Linked DNA regions of Homo sapiens: all the other regions are linked to region 1. Evidence: fine-mapped expression QTL. A gene starts in region 1. Each other region holds a variant in brackets. All regions are shown on one strand. Distances are from middle to middle. Region 1 holds the start of BACE1 (beta-secretase 1). Region 2 has its middle 96 kb from the start of CEP164. Region 3 overlaps BACE1 (beta-secretase 1). Region 4 overlaps CEP164 (centrosomal protein 164).

The links.
Region 2: its variant is fine-mapped to the expression of BACE1 in whole blood (TOPMed, PIP above 0.99).
Region 3: its variant is fine-mapped to the expression of BACE1 in testis (GTEx, PIP above 0.99).
Region 4: its variant is fine-mapped to the expression of BACE1 in whole blood (GTEx, PIP above 0.99).

What each region holds. Positions count from the first base shown.
Region 1 is chr11:117,313,713-117,318,858 of GRCh38, reverse strand. It overlaps BACE1 (beta-secretase 1), which reads left to right and starts at 2,603. Exons shown (of 9, transcript NM_012104.6): 1 at 2,603-3,324. The coding sequence starts at 3,064. RefSeq lists silencers at 2,875-2,964, 3,055-3,164 and enhancers at 3,693-4,214, 4,215-4,737.
Region 2 is chr11:117,421,059-117,426,204 of GRCh38, reverse strand. No RefSeq gene overlaps it. Among named protein-coding and RNA genes, the nearest start is that of CEP164, 96 kb to the right of the region's middle. The variant A/T (reference allele first, on the strand shown) is at 3,132.
Region 3 is chr11:117,290,655-117,295,800 of GRCh38, reverse strand. It overlaps BACE1 (beta-secretase 1), which reads left to right. Exons shown (of 9, transcript NM_012104.6): 3 at 454-670; 4 at 1,793-1,930; 5 at 2,613-2,747; 6 at 3,988-4,089; 7 at 4,752-4,901; 8 at 5,142-5,146. It also overlaps BACE1-AS. Among named protein-coding and RNA genes, the nearest start is that of BACE1, 23 kb to the left of the region's middle. The variant G/C (reference allele first, on the strand shown) is at 2,693.
Region 4 is chr11:117,394,891-117,400,036 of GRCh38, reverse strand. It overlaps CEP164 (centrosomal protein 164), which reads right to left. Exons shown (of 33, transcript NM_014956.5): 22 at 5,034-5,117; 23 at 4,846-4,914; 24 at 4,315-4,490; 25 at 3,857-3,983; 26 at 3,426-3,487; 27 at 2,724-2,946. Among named protein-coding and RNA genes, the nearest start is that of CEP164, 70 kb to the right of the region's middle. The variant A/G (reference allele first, on the strand shown) is at 2,070.

The DNA.
Region 1 (5,146 bases):
GAGGCAGGCAGATAACTTGAGGTAAGGAGTTAGAGACCAGCCTGGCTAACATGGTGAATTCCCGTCTCCACTAAAAATACAAAAATTAGCTGGGCGTGCTGGCGCGTGCCCGTAGTCCCAGCTACTTGGGAGGCTGAGGCAGGAGAATCGCTTGAGGAGGCAGAGGTTTCAGTGAGCTGAGATCATGCCACTGCATTCCAGCCTGGGTGACAGAGGGAGACTCCGTCTCAAAAAAAAAAAAAATTAGCCAGGCATGGTGGTGTGCGCTTGTAATCCCAGCTACTCAGGAGGCTGAGGCACAAGAATCGCTTGAACCCAGGAGGAGGAGGTTGCAGTGAGCTGAGATGAAGCCACTGCACTCCAGCCTGGGTGATAAAGTGAGACTGTTTCAAAAAAAAAAAAAAGGACTCAAAAAGTAAGTAACCAGAGTGGGCTCTCCCAGTTACTAATTGAACCAGAATTAGAACACTGGTGGTATTGGAATACTTCTGATTCTACAGAAGTTTTAAATATTTAAGTCATCAAATCCATCCAGTTTTTGGGTTTGTTTACCTTCTAGGGTTTGTTAGGGAGGTCTTCTTCAATATAAGATCATGAAAATATTCTATTTTTCCTGTAGTTTTATTTTAATGTTAAATTCTTTAATCTATCTGGAGTTTATTTTCAGAGGAATGAAATTGGATTTGGTTTTTTTTCCTTCCAAATGGGCTGCCAGACGTCCCAACAACAGTTTTTGAATAATGCGTCCATTTTCCTCTAATACGAATGCCATCTCTATCATATCTACAATTCCCATAGATACATTTCTCTATTTTGATTTCGATTTTTTTAACTTGTGTCTAATCATCTTATTGATTAGGGTTTTCTATCCATATCATATAATCTGCAACTAATGATTCCTTTGCTTTCCAACATATATAACACTTTTTCCATTTTCTTGTCTTTTGAGTCAATCAGACCGGTCTGAACCGTGTAGGATAAGAGTAGAGATAATGATCGGCCGGGCGCGGTGGCTCACGCCTGTAATCCCAGCACTTTGGGAGGCCGAGGCGGGAGGATCACGAGGTCAGGAGATCGAGACCATCTTGGCTAACACGGTGAAACCCCGTCTCTACTAAAAATACAAAAAATTAGCGGGGCGTGGTTGCAGGCGCCTGTAGTCCCAGCTATTCGGGAGGCTGAGGCAGGAGAATAGCCTGAACCCGGGAGGCAGAGCTTGCAGTGAGCTGAGATCCCACCACTGCACTCCAGCCTGGGCGACAAAGCGAGACGCCTTCTCAAAAAAAAAAAAAAAAAGAGTAGAGATAATGATCTTTCCTTTCCAAAGCCTGCCTTTAATGGGAGTAACGTAGCCTGTTATTACTACATTTGTTGTTGTTGTCGTTATCTTGTTTAAAAAGTTTCCTGGCTGGGTACAGTGGTCCATGCCTATAATCCCAGCATTTTGGGAGGCCGACGTGGGCGGATCACTTGAGGCCAGGAGTTCGAGACCAGCCTGGCCAACATGGTGAAATCCCATCTCTACTAAAAATACAAAAATTAGCTGGGTATGGTGGCGCATGCTTGTAATCCCAGCTACTCAGAGGCTGAGGCATGAGAACTGCTTGAACCCGGGAGGCGGAGGTTGCAGACTTGAGACCATGCCACTGCACTCCAGCCTGGGTGACAGAGCAAGTCTCCTTTTCAAAAGAAAAATGAAGATTCCCTTTCATTTTTTAAAAAAATTAAATCAGAGTAACTGCTGAATTTTATCAATGGCTTTCCACATTTGATAAACAATATATTGTTAAAACCATACCGGCTTTTCTCCTTTAAGCTATTAGAACTCTAACGCTTTTGGTTCAAGGCTTTAAGCTCTTACCAGTTAATATAGAGATACTTTTCGGAGTGTTAACACTTTAAAGCTATCAACAGCCATTTCTCCTCAGTCTGGCTGATGGTGCAGAAAATCAGAGGAGCCATAAGGATTCAAGTAGAGCCTCAAGGGCACAAACAGGTTCAGATGGGAGAAGACCCACTGGCTCTTACCTGCCCGCAGATCGCAGGCGCAGGAGAAAATAAGACAACTGCACTTTCCCCTTTTGGACCCTGCTCCGCTGGTTTGCAGCCTGGAAAAACTCTTCCTCCCCTTTCATCCTGCTCCCTCAATCTCTGCTCGTGAAAATCCTACCCATTTTTAAACGCTCAAATTAAATACCACCTTCTCCCACTGAGTCTTCCCAGATCCCCTAGATGTCCCTCCAAATCCCTACTCCTTAATGCCACATCGTATAGTGTGAAACCCCACCGCGGCAGGAATCACTTAACTGTCCCGTGTAGAATCACCGTTTATTTCTCTCTGTATCTCCAGCGCCTGGCAGTGTGCCTGGCATACAGTGGGTGCTCCTTCCATGCTGAAAGAAAGACTGACAGACGGGAGGTGTGCCCCTCTCCATCCGTCTGGCCCTTCCCGCCAGGGCCTTGCAGGGCGGACTCCACCTCGGCAGAGGGCATCCCAGACCCCTCTCCAGCCCCGGAAGCCGGATTGCCTGCCATGGGAAGACTACACTTCCCAGCGATCCCAGGGAAAAGCGAAAACCTTTTGGCTTTGACAGCCGCCGCCACAAGTCTTTCCGCCTCCCCAGCCCGCCCGGGAGCTGCGAGCCGCGAGCTGGATTATGGTGGCCTGAGCAGCCAACGCAGCCGCAGGAGCCCGGAGCCCTTGCCCCTGCCCGCGCCGCCGCCCGCCGGGGGGACCAGGGAAGCCGCCACCGGCCCGCCATGCCCGCCCCTCCCAGCCCCGCCGGGAGCCCGCGCCCGCTGCCCAGGCTGGCCGCCGCCGTGCCGATGTAGCGGGCTCCGGATCCCAGCCTCTCCCCTGCTCCCGTGCTCTGCGGATCTCCCCTGACCGCTCTCCACAGCCCGGACCCGGGGGCTGGCCCAGGGCCCTGCAGGCCCTGGCGTCCTGATGCCCCCAAGCTCCCTCTCCTGAGAAGCCACCAGCACCACCCAGACTTGGGGGCAGGCGCCAGGGACGGACGTGGGCCAGTGCGAGCCCAGAGGGCCCGAAGGCCGGGGCCCACCATGGCCCAAGCCCTGCCCTGGCTCCTGCTGTGGATGGGCGCGGGAGTGCTGCCTGCCCACGGCACCCAGCACGGCATCCGGCTGCCCCTGCGCAGCGGCCTGGGGGGCGCCCCCCTGGGGCTGCGGCTGCCCCGGGAGACCGACGAAGAGCCCGAGGAGCCCGGCCGGAGGGGCAGCTTTGTGGAGATGGTGGACAACCTGAGGGGCAAGTCGGGGCAGGGCTACTACGTGGAGATGACCGTGGGCAGCCCCCCGCAGACGGTAAGGTGGTCAGGCCAGCCCTTAGCCCTCCGCCTGCATGAGCAGAGGGGAGACAGGATGGGGATGCCTCAAGCTAGCCCCTGCTCAAATGGGCTGGTGGGGACAGCAGGAGGGACCCCTCCCCAGCCATTCCCCGGGGGTCACGTGGTTGTTGGCAGAAGTGTTCCCAAGCTCCCCATTCCCTCCTCGTCTCCCCTGGCTGCCTAGTTCCCCTTGCTCCTCATCTGACACATACGCCGTCTGGAAGGATTTGAGGCAAGACAGACACATCAGCTGGGGACCCTGACCTGGAGGAAGGGTCCGCCACAGGGGCACTATAACAGGTGTCAGCCCCCTCTGACAGTGGCCCAGTCCGAGTCTCCCAAATCCCACCACTCTAGAGGTTGGCCACCCAACCTTGTCCCCTCCTCTGATTCCCACCATTGTTCCCAGTACCTCCAGGACCAAGGAATCCTGGCAGCAGTTGAATAAGCACCTTGCTCCCACCATCTGGGCTGCCACTGGTACGGCAAAGTGAGGTTGTCGAGGCCCCCCTGACTGCACTCCGCCCGGAAGCCCTGGACAGGCTCCTGCCGTCCCCTCCTCCTCCCCTTCTCCCTCTCGCGGTCTACACTCCGGCCCCTCCCCCACCCCACACCTCCCCAGGCCAGAGGGGAACTGAACTGAGCCTGGTGAAAGAACAAATGGTAGGAAAGGAGCCAGAGCTCCCTTTTAAGAGTGGGACTCCTTCCATGGCGGGGGAGAGGGGAGTTACAGAGAAAACACTGTTATGCCCTCCCCATCCTTCCTGACAATCTCCAAGGTACCTTCAAGGTGGCTGGTGGAGGTGGCACCCTCTGCACCTCTGTGGGTGAGCAGCCCTCCATGTGGGGTGCTGTGGCTGACCTCTGTGTGCATCTGCCGCCTCTGTGGGGCAGTCCGGGCCCGGGCAGCCCTGTGGTTCTGTGTATGCTGGTGCGTGTCACCTTGAATCTGATCCTGCACATCTGTGAGCCACCTCCGGATCTGTGTCTGGGAAGTCTGTCCTTGGGAGGGTCTGTGAAGGTGGGAGTGTGTTTGGGGTGGGCGGAGGGGACAGCCACACTTTCCTGAACTTCTCAGACAGCTGGATCTGGGAGAAACACAAACCCCCACCTCCCAATTACTTTACAGAAGCCAGCCTTCCTAGGTGCGTGCTCCCCAGCCCTACCTCTCAGCTAGTCGAAAGCCTGGTCTTCCCCACTTTCTCATCCTCTTTCCTGTGCACCATAACTTCCCCAGCAGTAGTCTCCAGTGGGAATTTGGGAGGGCAGGACAGAAGCCAAATCCAGGCCCTGAGCAAACAGAACGCTAGATGATATCGTCAGGGAGCAGCAGGTATGCAGAGACCTGGGACCTACTCCTGTTTCTGCGACTGACATGCTGTGCACACTGTGCATGGACCCCATGGCACGATGCAGGACGGGGCTGCAGAACCCACACAAGCTTTGAGGTCAGACAGTCCACGAATCCCAGCTCTACCACCCACAGCTTTTCCTCTTCTCAGCTGTGTGGCCTTGGGCAAATTGCATAACCTCTCTGAAACTACTGTCATATCTTTAAAATGAGTAGGAAATGAGACCTCCTTTGCAAGGTAATTGTGAGGATTAAGTTGTGAGGGTTAATTGTTCTAGGTGCTTTCACCCAGAACAATACACCAGCATATAAAACTGACCTCCAACAAATATGAAGTCACTTTATCCTTGTCTGGCCTGTTCTGCCTCTTCAATTCTATGCAATGAGGCATAAAAACTCGGATGTCCTGGGCCTCCACGTTTTACATGTATAAAACTGGGGTATCCTG
Region 2 (5,146 bases), 110 kb before region 1:
GCCTAAGGGCTCCGAAGGGGAACGCTGTCATGAAAATACATGACGGATCCCGATACTACGTGCCAGGTGCTGCTTGTAACCTCATTGCAGACTTGGGAGAAAGGTATCACGATTACCACGTGACAGGTGAGAAGGTTAGAGGAGCTAGAAGAGATGGGAATGAGATTTAAACTCATGAGCGTCCAATTCCTTAACTACTGAGCCATACTACCTGCTGTTCCACTGTTCAAAGATTAGAGTTTCAGTTCTTCCCCCAGGATGTTGCCAGGGGAAGAGTCCGCCAGGTCCAGGGAGCAAGCTGGACGCATGGGCAGAAAAACAGTTGAGGCAGGTGACCCAATATGCAGCACAGGATGGATCAAGGGCTCCAAAGTACTTTACCCTGGTGAGGGGCGGTGGTAGAAAAGGTGGAATTCAGCTCTGGGGAGCTGTTGGAGGTCTGGGACCTGAGGTGGACTCTGTAGGATGAGAAGGATTTGGAAAGGCAACAGAAAAGTAAGATGTGGGCCAGTCTAGCTTGTATTCCACTGGGCTAGGCCCCTTATTATAAAGCACAAAGTCTAGAAATTCAGGCATACTTGAGCAAAATCCACACGATTTTATTTGCTAATAATCTCTAACTTCAGTACGCTTTGCAGGGTTGTTTGAGACAGCATCTCACTCTGTCACCCAGGCTGGAGTGCAATGGTGTGATCACGGCTCACTGCAGCCTCGACCTTTCTGGCTCAAGTGATCTTCCTGCCTCAGCCCCTTGAGTAGCTGGGACTACAGGCACATGCCACCATGCTCGGCTAATTTTTGTACTTTTTTTTTTCCGTAGAGACAGGGTTTCACCATGTTGCCCAGGCTGGTCTCGAACTCCTGGACTCAAGCAATCCTCCCGCCTCAGCCTCCCAAAGTGCTGGGATTACAGGTGTGAGCCACTGCGCCAGGCCCTTAATATGTTTGTTAGCTAAACCACAAGCCTGCCTGTTTGATCCACACCCAGAAGCTAATTCACAAATCAGTGGCACTCCTGCTCCTCATTCATCCCCAGCTCATCCTCATTGAACTCTATGTATCTGGAACAGTCATCTTACACATTCACTTGCTCCTTTCCAAAACTCCACTTTGTCTACCATGGATAAGATGACCATCTGCCCTTGAGAGCCTTGATACTCTACATGTGGGTCACAGGCCAGTGGCACCAGCACCACCGTCACCTAGGAGCTTGTTGCAAATGCAAAAAAAATACCAGGCCTCACGCCAGAACCACTGAATCAGACTCTGCACTTCAGCAAAATCCCCAGGGGACCCATATGCACATCAACGTTTGAGAAACCCTCCTCTAGAAGACCTTCAGAGAGATTACCCCTTGTTCCCCCATTCTACCAACAACCAGAGCTAGACTAGTGGGTCTCAAACGTAGATGCACATCAGATTCACCTGAGGAGCTCGTTAAACAATACAGAAGCCCAGCTCTCACCAATCCTAACAGAATAGGAATTTGCTGGTATGCGGCCTAGGCTTTTTTTTTTTTTTTTTTTTGAGACAGGGACTTGCCCTGTAGCCCAGGCTGGAGTGCAGTGATGCTATCACGGCTCACTGCAGCCTCAATCTCCCCGACTCAGGTGATCCTCCTTCCTCAGCCTCTCGAGTAACTGGGACTATAGGCACTTGCCACCACACCTGGCTAGTTTTTGTATTTTTAGTAGAGAGGGGGTTTCATCATGTTGCCTAGGCTGGTATTGAACTCCTGAGCTTAAGCAATCGCCCACCTCGGCCTCCCAAAGTGCTGGGATTACAGGCATGAGCCACTGCACCTGACCAACATTTCTATTTTTATGGTGGTAAAAGATACATAAAATTCGCCATTTTAACCATTTTAAAATGTACAATTCAGCAGCATTAAGTATATTCACCTTGTTGTAAATCACTATCCATTTCCAGAACTTTCTCATCATTCCAGAAAGAAACTTTGTACCCATTAATCAATAACTCCCCATCTTCCTCTCTCTCAGCACCTGGCAACCACCATTCTACTTTCTGTCTGTATGAACCTGCCTATTCTGGGTACCTTGTATAAGTGGAATCATACAATATGTGTCCTTTTGGTTCTGGCTTATTTCACTTAGCATCATGTCTTCAAGCTGCATCCATGTTGCAGCATGTGTCAGAATTCCACTCCTGTTTGAGGATATTCCATTATTTACGACATGTTGCTTCTCCATTCATTTCCTCTCCTGGTGGACACGTGGGTTGCTTCTGCCTCTCAGCTATTGTGAATAATGCTGCTATGAACACAGGTGTACAAGGATCTGTTTGAGCCCCTCTTTTCAATTCTTTTGGGAATATAGCCAGGACTGGAACTGCTGAATCACATGCTCATTCTATGTCTTACTTTTTGAGGAACGAACAAACTGTTTTCCCCCAGGCATCTGTATTTTTTGTTTGTTTGTTTGTTTGTTTTTGAGACGGAGTCTCAATCTGTAGCCCAGGCTGGAGTGCAGTGGCACCATCTCGGCTCACTGCAACCTCCACCTCCCGGGTTCAAGCAATTATCCTGCCTCAGCCTCCTGAGTAGCTGGGATTACAGGCATGCGCCACCACACCCAGCTAATTTTTGTATCTTTGGTAGAGACAGGGTTTCACCATGTTGGCCAGGCTGATCTTGAACTCCTGACCTTGTGGCATCTGTATTTTTAACAAGCGAAATGATACCCAAGTATTTGTTCATTCACCAAATACCCAGAAGCACTTCCAATGATCTGGCACTGAGCTGGGCACTGGAGATGCAAAGGCCCTGTGGGTCTCTTCCTGCGCTCAAAGGCTCACTCCCCGGAGTGTGCGCAAACTGGCGGAGGCGGAAGGAGGGAAGCCTGGGTCAGGGAACAGCAGGGAGGGTTTGCTGTCTGCCAAAGCCTCATGATCCTCCACAGTGCACAGTTGTTGCGGGGAAGTCGCTACGCATCCCGTGACTACAGTTCCAGGCCCCCGATTCTCAGAGAAGGCGATGAGACTGAGCTTTGACCAGCGGAATGTGGCATAAGTGATACACGCTACTTTCAGGTCCAGCTCATAAAAACTTCCCTGGCCACCCTCTGCTCTCTCCAACTGTAAGTCAATGCCCAAGGTGAACTTGGAAGCCACTT[A/T]TTGAAGATGGCAGATCCTCTATCACCCTGGCTTATACATCGATGTAGCGCAGAGGCCCCTCTATCCCCTTCAATGCCAGCTGGACTTTATGTGAGCAAGAAATAAACTTGCAGTAAGCACCGATACTTTGGAGTTTATTTTACAACAATTAGCATCATCTTAATTTATGCAGGAGATGAAGGGGAACTTGGCTCCCCATAGAAATTCTCCCTTGATAGATCAGGCCCAGGGCATCCTCCCCCGCACCGCCTGCCATACCATGTCACCCACCATACCATGTCACCTCCTCTTACCCTACATATTGGATTCCTATACAGGTAAAGGGTGGGAAAGGCAAAGGGAGACGCTGGTGAGCTTAGAGAGGAGGAGGGCATCTGTGTGTCTGTAGGAGAAGGGTGGGAGAACCAGGCTGAGCATGAACCCTGAGTCAGGGCTCTGTCCTTCCTCCCAGAATCCATGTCCTCTTCTGGGCAATGACAACAATACTCTAGGCCGAAGGAGGAATAGATGCCAGCTGGATTACCCTGGAGGTGATCCATACTTGGTTTTAGTGTCTCTAAGAATCGCACAATCTCAGGACTCAAAGAGACCTTCAACGCCACCTGGTCCACGCTTCCACCCAAATTGGGAATTCCATCTGCAATCAGCAAGAGTGGTCTGGCCTTCCCGTGCACACCTCCTGATGGAGAACTCATCACTTCCCCAGCCAGCACATCTCACCTGTGACAGCTCTAACAGCAAAACCTCCCTCACACTAAGCTTGGGTGGCCCCTCCAACTTCTACTCACAAGGCTCGGTACTGCCACTCCTGGGGGGCACCACAAAACAAGTCTCATCCCTTCCCAACTCAGAAGCCCTCCACAGATGGTATTTGAACATCGTCCTCAGCAGACAGGCTCCCCAAGGGCAGAGAAGGGTTCCACTGTCTCTTCCAGAGAAGGGACAGTGCCTGACTTAATAGGAGCACAACATATGTTAGACATAGATGAACAAAGGGTAAACAGTGGGAGAAACGGGCAAGGAGTAGACCAGTGAAGGCCGAGATCTCCTGAAACATTGGTTCTCTCCGCATAGTGTCCCCAAGTTACAAGAAAACAACACAACAGAATACCATCATGCCTGCTGCCGTTTGCTGAGAGTCTACTTGAGTCAAGCACCCTGATAACCACTTAGCACGGATACTCTCCTAGTTTTACCACTACCCTGTAAAAAAGAGTAACTCCTATAAGCACAAAACCCAAGTGGTGGTGTCTCAGGGCCGTAGTGCCAGTCAAAGAACCTCAATCCACTCAGCCACCAAAACGAAAGTTTTAAATAACTCAAGTTATCTGCTTTTGTTTTTGTGATCCTGAAGGGGTCCGAAGAGCAGATGTAAGTGACACCCGCTGACACCCTACGGAGCCTGTGCCTCCCACATCCCCCCACACACTGCCTGCTCTTCTCCAGCCCTGCTCAGCTCCGCCCTCCTCTCCTCTGGGGAATGTTCTCTCACATTCATTTCCCCCCATTTTCCATTAGGAAACAGCAACAGTTGGGCATAGGGGAGGCAGAGGAGGTGGGAGAAACCGCAGGCAAGGCAGGCCTCCTCTTTGGTGATTCGTGGGAAGGATCTATGGATGGGAAATTAATGTGTTTGTAATTTCTGCCCTGAAGATGTGTGATCTCCATTTTATTGGCTAAGAAAGAAGTCAAAGAGGTCAGGTGACTTGTACAAGGCCACTCAGCCGGCAAGAGGCATCAGCCAGGGTTTGAATTCCAAAGCCGGTGCTCACCAAACCACTTCGGATCCTTTCCAGAAAGCCAGGCGGCCCCCAGAAGGCGCCATGTGTAGAGTTCCTACTATGTGGCGGGCACTGCGATGGAAACGCAGGGGCTGCGGAGTCAATCCTGCTGCTCCCTTGCCAGCTCTGTGACCTCGGGAAAGCACCTTCGCCCTCATGGGCCTCAATTTCCGCTTCTATGAAATGCGAGAATAACTCCCATGCTGCCAGGTTGATAAGACTGAAAGGAAATA
Region 3 (5,146 bases), 23 kb after region 1:
GTTCCACATTCACCCTGCCTGGCACTTTCTCTACCACTCGGATGGTACCACTAGGTTCCAAGGCAGTAAGAGAGTCAATGGTTCCTTTTCTCGGGGAGCTTGACGGAGCCAGAGGGCGGAAGAGATGCCCACTAGCTGTCCCTGCAGCAGCAGCAGCAGCAGGCACAATGCACAAAGCCCAGGCTTGTTCTTCACAGGGCCTGAGCTCAAGATCTAGGAATATGAGCAATAGATAGGAGAGCAAGCCTCACCAATGGTTCCCTTCATCTATCTGCAAGCCCACTTTACACTCTGTTCTGGGTGGTGAGTCTAGGGATGTTTTGCTGAGCAGCCTGAAAGCAGACTCTAGGATTCCCCTGAGATGAGATAAGGTGGTGTTTGGGAGTAAGTTTAACTTAGATCCTTATACCAGTTGTGGTTATGCATCCACAGATCTCTGCCTTCTTTCCACAGGTCCAGCACATACCGGGACCTCCGGAAGGGTGTGTATGTGCCCTACACCCAGGGCAAGTGGGAAGGGGAGCTGGGCACCGACCTGGTAAGCATCCCCCATGGCCCCAACGTCACTGTGCGTGCCAACATTGCTGCCATCACTGAATCAGACAAGTTCTTCATCAACGGCTCCAACTGGGAAGGCATCCTGGGGCTGGCCTATGCTGAGATTGCCAGGGTGAGAGGAACAGGGCTTGGCCCTACACACTCTATGCACACTGCACTATACAGAGAAGGAATTAGGAGAGAGAAGGGGAATTAGCAGAAGGAGGGCAACAATCAGTTTAAAGGATTATTTAACAGGGGTATAGGGTGGCAGTCTAAATTTTAGCCCTATAGAGGGCAGAACCATAGTGACAGAAGCTGTGATAGGTACAAGAATAGGCTGTGCTTTCTATGTACTCTTAAGATCTTTTTTTTTTTGAGACGGAGTTTCACTCTTGTTGCCCAAGCTGGAGTGCAATGGTGCAATCTTGGCTCACTGCAACCTCCACCTCCTCGGTTCAAGCGATTTTCCTGCCTCAGCCTCCCGAGTAGCTGGGATTATAGGCGCCCACCATGACGCCCGGCTAATTTTTTCTATTTTTAGTAGAAATGGGGTTTCATCATGTTAGCCAGGCTGGTCTCGAACTCCTGACCGCAGGTGATCCGCTCACCTCGGCCTTCCTAAGTGCTGGGATTACAGGCATGAACCACCGCGACCAGCCACTCTAAGATCTTTAATAAAGGCCCCCATAAATTTGAAGCAGGTTAGGCATAGGGGGATCAAAGATATATGAACCTGGCCAGGCGTGGTGGCTCACACCTGTAATCCCAGCACTTTGGGAGGCCAAGGCGAGCGGATGACCTGAGGTCAGAAGTTCAAGACCAGCCTGACCAACATGGTGAAACCCCATCTACCCCATCTCTACTGAAAACACAGAAATTAGCCGGGCATGTTGGCGCATGCCTATAATCCCAGCTACTCAGGAGGCTGAGGCACGAGAATCACTTGAACCCAGGAGGTGAAGGTTGCAGTGAGCCGAGATCGTAACATTGCACTCCAGCTTGGGCAACAAGAGCAAAACTCTGTCTCAAAAAAAAAAAAAAGATCTATGAATCTGTGAACCTATCAATACTGTCCTGTTTGCATTGCCAGGGCTCCTGCTAACCCTTCCTCTGCCAAATCTCAGTGCCTTAAGATGGTCTTTCCCAAGGAGCATCCCCCAAGCCTTCAAATTTGCCTTCCAGTTTAGACAGGAAGCTGGCCTCTGCCTTTAGGGCCGTATGAGGACTCACTCCTTGTCTCTTTCTGCCAAAGCCTGACGACTCCCTGGAGCCTTTCTTTGACTCTCTGGTAAAGCAGACCCACGTTCCCAACCTCTTCTCCCTGCAGCTTTGTGGTGCTGGCTTCCCCCTCAACCAGTCTGAAGTGCTGGCCTCTGTCGGAGGGAGCATGGTGAGTAGGTCCTCAGAGAGGGGAGGTCCTGGCATTGAGGGAGAGATGGGTGCCATCCTCTCCCCTTCCTGAAAGCTACACCACAGTTTTGGCTCCGATACTTAGAATCAGGAGGAACCTCTTTATATTCCCTACCCTTACTTTATTTTTCCATTCTTTTCTTTTTTGCGTTATTCCAGAAAGGAATCAAGGCACCTATGGTAAACTTGGAAAGGAAGGCAATTAGGAAAATTTCAAAGGAAATGAAAATAAGACCTGTTGAATTAAAATTATTCAGTTTGATGGTCAGAAGGCAGAGATATAAGAAGTTTGTCTATTTATTAATTAATTAGAACAATGGTGAATGGTTCTCCAATAAGCAGAGAAAATAAAACTTATAATATAAACAAATAACCATTCATTCAACATTTATTGTGGCAGTTTAGATTTAAATAACTTTATATCAAGGGCTGTATGATTCTGAAACAAATAATTAAAAATCCCGGAAAGTCTTTTCTCCTGAACACATTTAAGAAACTAGAAATCACTTTGGGTATGATTTGTTTAGAAGCAGGAAGATGAAAAGGGTAGCCTGTAGAAGACCTTGCCACCCCAAGAAATCACTGATCTTATTGCTTGGTCCTTGGGGGACTCACTCTCCTTCTGTGCCAGGACACGGGTACCTGCCTCTTTTTTTCCCTAGATCATTGGAGGTATCGACCACTCGCTGTACACAGGCAGTCTCTGGTATACACCCATCCGGCGGGAGTGGTATTATGAGGT[G/C]ATCATTGTGCGGGTGGAGATCAATGGACAGGATCTGAAAATGGACTGCAAGGAGGTAAGAAAACCAAGGGAGAGCCTGGGAACATAAGGGGGTAGGCAGTACAATGTGAAGGAAGACTCTGGTTATCATGTTGGGAGGATGAGGCAGAGGTAATAGGACCTGCAGAAAGGGTTGGAAGTTGAGCCTAGAACAGTCAGGGGCTTAATGGTCACACAGCAGGATCTGCGGTTTGGGGCCTAGGGACTGGTAGTGAAAAAAAAAACATGGAACTAGTTCTGATGTCTGGACTCTAGTCACTGCCTTGCTTCGTAGCCTTGGGCAAGTCTTTTGTGAGACAGGGTGATAGAATGAAGAGTCTTGTCTTTGGAGTCAGGAAGACCCAGATCTGAATCTAGCTCTGATTTGTACTAGCTATGTACCCTTAGGCCAGTTACTATTCTGTGTCTCAGTTTCCTTATCTGCAAAACAGGTAAAAACAACTTTCTCAGAATATCAGAGATAATGTGTAAAGTGTTTATCTCTGTGGTTGGCAGTACTCAATAAAAGGTAACTAAATCATTTATGTCTTCCTTCCCTAGATTCTTATGTATGTTAAATTAGAATAGATATAAATGTACTAAGAAAAGTTAAAAGCGGCCGGGCGTGGCTGTAATCCCAGCACTCTGGGAGGCCAAGGCGGGGGCAGATCATTTGAGGTCAGAAATTCGAGACCAGCCTGGTCAACATGGTGAAACCCCATCTCTACTAAAAATAGCCAGGCGTGGTGGCAGGCACCTGTAGTCCCAGCTACTTGGGAGGCTGAGGCAAAAGAATGGTTTGAATCCAGGAGGCAGAGGTTAGAGTGAGCCGAGATCACGCCACTGTACTCCAGCCTGGGTGACAGAGCTAATACTCCATCTCAAAAAAAAAAAAAAAAAAAAAAAAAAGAAAAGAAAAGTTAAAAGCACTAAACAAGGTATTTTTATTTTCAAGTTTGGAGACTACCTGCCCACCCAAGATTAACAAGAATAAACATTTACCAAGTGCCTTCTCTCTGCTGGGCACGATTCTAAGTGCTTTACATTGCTGATTTATTTAATCCTTACAATAACCCTTTGAGGTAGGTGCTATTTTTATCCTCACTTTAGAGATGAAGGAACTGAGGCACAGAGGTTAACTTGTCCAAGCAGGTACACTTAGGAGGTGCCAAAGCCAAGATGCCAACCCAGCTGGGGCCCCAGCAGTAACCCCCTACTGCCCAGAGCCCAGCATCAAAAACCTTTTGACTCTTTTAACTCTCTCTTTTCCCTCTTAGTACAACTATGACAAGAGCATTGTGGACAGTGGCACCACCAACCTTCGTTTGCCCAAGAAAGTGTTTGAAGCTGCAGTCAAATCCATCAAGGCAGCCTCCTCCGTGAGTGGACTAAGGATGGGGGTAAAAGAGATGGTACAGTGTCAGAGGGAGGCGGTGAGAGTCACATTCTTCAGCAACAGCCAAGATGTCTGCACTTAGACCCTTCTACTCAGAGCTCTTAAAACACTCTTCCCCTAGCCAGGCGTGGTGGCTCACGCCTGTAATCCCAGCACTTTGGGAGGCCAAGGTGGGCAGATCACTAGGTCAGGAGTTCAAGACCAGCCTGACCAACAGGGTGAAATCCCATCTCTACTAAAAGTACAAAAATTAGCTGGGTGTGGTGGCGCACGCCTGTAATCCTAGCTACTCAGGGGGCTGAGACAGGAGAATCACTTTAACTCAGGACGGTGGAGGTTGCGGTGAGCCATGATTGCGCCACTGCACTCCAGCCTGGGCAACAGAGTGAGACACTGTTTCAAAAAAAAAAAAAAAACTCTTCCCCTTTATGGCTGTCACTTTGCTCATCACACAATCCCCCGGTACAAAAGTTTGACATCACACTCCCTCTCTCTTCCTGTAATCCTCTGGTTGGTTTACCCCTCCCCACTTTAGATATTTCACTGGAAAAGCAAATGAAGGGCCCAGTTAATGTATCTGAACATGGGAGGGGCGAGATGATAAAGAGGCTTTTCCTCATTGTTATCCCCTTCTTGCCAACACAGACGGAGAAGTTCCCTGATGGTTTCTGGCTAGGAGAGCAGCTGGTGTGCTGGCAAGCAGGCACCACCCCTTGGAACATTTTCCCAGTCATCTCACTCTACCTAATGGGTGAGGTTACCAACCAGTCCTTCCGCATCACCATCCTTCCGCAGGTATGTCCCAGCCTGAGTCAGGGGGATCTCTCTTAAAAGTACACACTGGGAGACAGTGAGCAGGTATGGCTTGCCAGAACTTGGAAGACAAAACAGATGAGTAGTGTCCAGCAGTAAAGGGGTCTCAGAAAACCCGTTAGAGCTCAGGGATGGTAAAGGGAAGGGCATAGATGCCTACAAGGCAGAGATGGGGTGAAGGAGAGTGAGGAAGACACTCACCCTGTGATTGCTTACCCCTAGCAATA
Region 4 (5,146 bases), 81 kb before region 1:
CCAAAAGCAATGGCAACAAAAGCCAAAATTGACAAATGAGATCTAATTAAACTAAAGAGCTTCTGCACAGCAAAAGAAACTACCATCAGAGTGAACAGGCAACCTACAGAATGGGAGAAAATTTTTGCAATCTACCCATCTGACAAAGGGCTAATATCCAGAATCTACAAAGAACTTAAACAAATTTACAAGAAAAAAACAAACAACCTCATCAAAAAGTGGGCAAAGGATATGAACAGACACTTCTCAAAAGAAGACATTTACGCAGCCAACAAACACATAAAAAAAAAGCTCATCATCACTGGTCATTAGAGAACTGCAAATCAAAACCACAATGAGATACCATCTCACATTGGTTAGAATGGCAATCATTAAATAGTCAGGAAACAACAGGTGCTGGGAGAGGATGTGGAGAAATAGGAATGCTTTTGCACTGTTGGTGTAAGCATAAATTAGTTCAACCACTGTGGAAGACAGTGTGGTGATGCCTCAAGGATCTAGAACCAGAAATACCATTTGACCCAGCAATTCCATTACTGGGTATATACCCAAAGGATTATAAACCATTCTATTATAAAGACACATGCACACATATGTTTATTGCAGCACTGTTCACAATAGCAAAGACTTGGAACCAACCCAAATGCCCATCAATGATAGACTGGATAAAGAAAATGTGGCACATATACACCATGGAATACTATGCAGCCATAAAAAAGGATGAGTTCATGTCCTTTGTAGGGACATGGATGAAGCTGGAAACTATCATTCTCAGCAAACTAACACAGGAACAGAAAATCAAACACTGCATGTTCTCACTCATAAGTGGGAGTTGAACAATGAGAACACATGGAAACAGGGAAGGAAACATCACACACCGGGGCCTGTCAGGGTTGGGGGCTAGGGGAGGGATAGCATTAGGAGAAATACCTAATGCAGATGACCGGTTGTTGGGTGCAGCAAACCACCATGACACGTATATACCTATGTAACAAACCTGCATGGTCTGCACATGTATCCCAGAACTTAAAGTATAATTAAAAAATAAAAAGAAAGAAAAGAAAAACCCATTTTTTGAGGAGAAATTCAAGCTAGCTGCAAAAATTTTCATATGTAACAAGGAGCAGAATCTCCAAGACAATGGGGAAAATATCTCCAGGACATGTCATAGGTCTTCATGGGCAGCCCCTCCCATCACAGACCCAGAGGCCTAGGAGGAAAAAATGGTTTCGTGGGCCAGGCCCAGGGTCCCCATGCTGTGTGCAGCCTAGGGACTTGGTGCCCTGCATCCCAGCCACTCCAGCCATTGCTAAAAGGGGGCAAGGTACAGCTTGGCCCATGGTTTCAGAGGATGCAAGCCCCATACCTTGGCAACTTCCATGTGGTGTTGAGCCTGCGGCTGCACAGAAGTCAAGAACTAAGGTCTGGGAACCTCCGCCTAGATTTCAGAAGATGTATGGAAACACCTAGATGCCCAGAAAAAAGTCTGCTACAGGGGTGGGGCCCTCATGGAGAACTTCTGCTAGGGCAGTTCAGAAGGGACATGTGGGGTCAGAGCCCCCACACAAAGTCCCTACTGGGGCACTGCCTAATAGAGCTGTGAGAAGAGGGCCACCGTCCTCCAGACCCCCAGAATGGTAGATCCGTCAATAGCTTGCACTATGCACCTCAAAAAGCCGCAGATACTCAATGCCAGCCTCGGAAGGCAGCTGGGAAGGGTTTGCCTTCTGGCTGCATTGCTGTACCCTGCAAAGCCACAGGGGCGGAGCTGCCCAAGACAATGAGAACCTACCTCTTGCATCAGCGTAACCTGGATGTGAGACATGGAGTCAAAGGAGATCATTTTGGAGCTTTAAAATTTGACTGCCCCACTGGATTTCAGACTTGCATGGGCCCTGTAACCCCTTTGTTTTGGCCAATTTCTCCCATTTGGAATGGCTGTATTTACCCAATGCCTGTATCCCCACTGTATCTAGAAAGTCAGTAGCTTGTTTTTTATTTTACAGGCTCATAGGCAGAAGGGACTTGCCTTGTCTCAGATGAGACTCTGGACTGTGGACTTTTGGGTT[A/G]ATGCTGAAATGAGTTAAGACTTTGAGGACTGTTGGGAAGGCATGATTGGTTTTGAAATGTGAGGACATGAGATATGGAGGGGCAAGGGGTGGAATGATATGGTTTGGCTCTGTGTCCCCACCAAAATCTCATCTTGAATTGTACTCCCATAATTTCCACGTGTTGTGGGAGGGACCTGGTGGGAGATAATTTGAATCACAGGGGCCATTTCCCCCATACTGTTCTCGTGATAGTGAATAAGTCTCCCGAGATCCTGATGGGTTTATGATGGGTTTCTGCTTTTGCTTGTTCCTCATTTTCTCTTGCTGCCACCATGTAAGAAGTGCCTTTCGCCTCCTGCCATGATTCTGAGGCCTCCCCAGCCATGTGGAACTGTAAGTTCAATTTTCTTTTTCTTCCCAGTTTCAGGTATGTCTTTATCAGCAGCATGAAAATGGACTAATAGTGTTATCATGAGGTTTAAATTATTTACTACTAGAAAAGGTGTTTGCATACTATGCATTGCCAAGTAAATATAAGTGACCCAGGGCCAAGGTGGCCACTCTCATGGAGTCCCGAGAATGACCAACTGAGGGGGAGCCCAAAGGACTGTTTTGCTGACTCCCCCCGCCTCCCCCACACAGGGCTGGCAGGCCCTTCCCAAAGCTCCTGACCTTCTCCAGGTTCTTGCGCATATCTTCCAGGGCCTTGATGCCTGGTGGGTCTTTGGCCACCTCCTGCGCACTGGCCAGCTCATGGCGCCAATGCTGCTGGGCAGCTTTCAGAGCTGTCTGCCGCCTCCGCATGGAGCGTGTCTGCTGCACAAGGAACTCCTTGGCACTACGGAGGGCTACCCCCTCAGCAGAGAGGAGGTGCCAGACATTGTGGGAGGACAGGCTGGAGCAGGAGAGTTGAAGAAGGAAAACAGAAGCCTCTAAGAACTCTGCTCTGGGTCACACAGCCCCTTCCCCAGCAGATGCCAACCCTGAGCACAGACCAGAGCTGCTGGGCTAGGGCTGGGCACTGTGAGTGCAGGGATGCCACTGTTCAATACCCACAGTGCGCAGTGCCTGGGACTGACAGTGCCCCCACCCTGACTCTGAGAGGGATCAGGCCTGGGGCCTCCAGATAGATGACCAAACACTTCCAGCAATCTGCTTCTCCACTAGAGGAGAATGCCATGTCAAAGGTCACAGTGGGCAGTTTCTTGGCTTGCCAGAGAAGATTCCTTAATCCTCCGGAGCCTTCCCCATGAACTAAGCCCCACTGGTGATCACCGTCTCCTCACTTCAGCTCACCCCAGCTCTATGATGCAGGTACTCACTTACCCCTTCATGGTACCCTAACCTCAAATAAGACAGGCTATGGGAACTCACCTGTCCAAGTATAAGTCCTCCTTGCTCTGGGAGAGAGAAGAAGACACCTCTTTGGTCTGGTTCTAGGGACACATGGTAGAAAAGTCCACTGAGTGTAGCAAAAGCAGACACCCTGCAGGTTCAAGACCCCAAAGCCCCTCCCAGTGGTCTAGACAAGGAAATGGCTCTCTAGCTGCCAGGCACTGTTTACTTATAGATATCATCTGACTGGTGGAGACGACTGGTAGCTGGGAATAAGAACAGACCAGGTCCCATAGAGAACAGAGCCAGCCCTTCCTGATGCCTTGGCCCACCTTATACTCCTCCCCTCCTGAGGCTCCACCCCTCCTGATGAGCTGTCCCCTCTGGAAGTACTCCCCTGATGCCCAGCCCCTCCCAATGCCCCACACCATCCTGGTGCCCCAGCCCCCAGGCCCCAGCCCCCAGCTCACTGTTCCAAGGGATTTCCTCAGGTCCTCAATATGGAGATCTGGCTCAAAATGTGGGGAAGCATTATTTTCCTCAACTGTCACTTCTCTCAACAGGTGCTGCTTCTTTTGAGCTTCAGCCTCCAGGCTGCTGTGGAAGGAAAGATGAGTGAGAGGCAGGGCAGCGGCTGGCGATGGGGGGGAGGGGTGAAGTGGGTCAGAACCATCTCCACCCCCTCACTCCCATCCGTCAAAGTCCCTGAGGAAGGGCTCAGGCACGAACAATAGCACCAGAGATCCCCTGCTTTTCACAGAATCTTAACAACCCCAACTCCCTACAAAATGTAGCCACAGGCTCTTCTGCCTAGCTCCCAAGCTGGGACTCCACCTCTCCCTATTAACTGGGCCATGACACAAGCAGCAGAGGTCAGAGGGCAGGCAGGAGGCAGCCAGCAGGGCTAAGTGCAGGGTGCCCACGCCACCTGAAGTGTTTCTGCAGTTGCTGGCTCTGAGCCTGCAGCAGATCCACTTGGGACTCCAGCTTCAGCTTGCGGGCCTGCAGCTCATCAAGAATTTCTCGGAGCTGCTGGTTTGACTGCAACAGGTGGGTGTGCTCCTTCTGTGCCTCCTCCAGCTGCTGATGGGTGGCTGTGGCTTCCTAGGGGCAAAAGGAAAGATAGAAGCACCCAGAGACAGCACAGAGAGAAGCCAGGGAGCAGACAGCACGAGAGGGTAGGGAAGCCAAAGGAGGACAGGCTGGGAATGAATTCAGAGCCACTGAAGTCACCACCTCTGAGGTCAAGAGGTCTGCAGGCTCCTGTCCTACCACAGTCCCACTCCCTTGAGGTTCCCAAGTGGGGTCCACAGAGTGGCACTATTTGTGGAATACTGGCCAACAGAGTTTGGAACCCCAGTGCCCTGGACAGATCAGATGAACAAAATGTGGGGAACAGGGAGAAGAAAGACAGGAAATGGAGGAAGAACAGGAGGGAGGACAAAACAGGGAGACAAACCTCACTCTTCAGAGCAACCTGCCTCTGCACATCAAGCAGCTGCTGCTTCTCCCTCCGGGCGGTCTCCTCCTTGCAGGGAAGAGACAGGATTTTCTGGCTGACTGCAGACCCCAGGTCTGAGGGGCAGAGCCTGCCCTCTGCTAGAGAAGCTATGACTCTGAGGTCAAGGACTCCTGCAGATCCCTCACCTGGACCTCCAGCAGAGCCAATCTGGCCTTGACATCTTTAGCTCTGGTTTCAAGGTCCAACTCTAAATCCTGGAGCTTCCTTTCCTGCCCAGAAAGGGAAACACATAAGCATA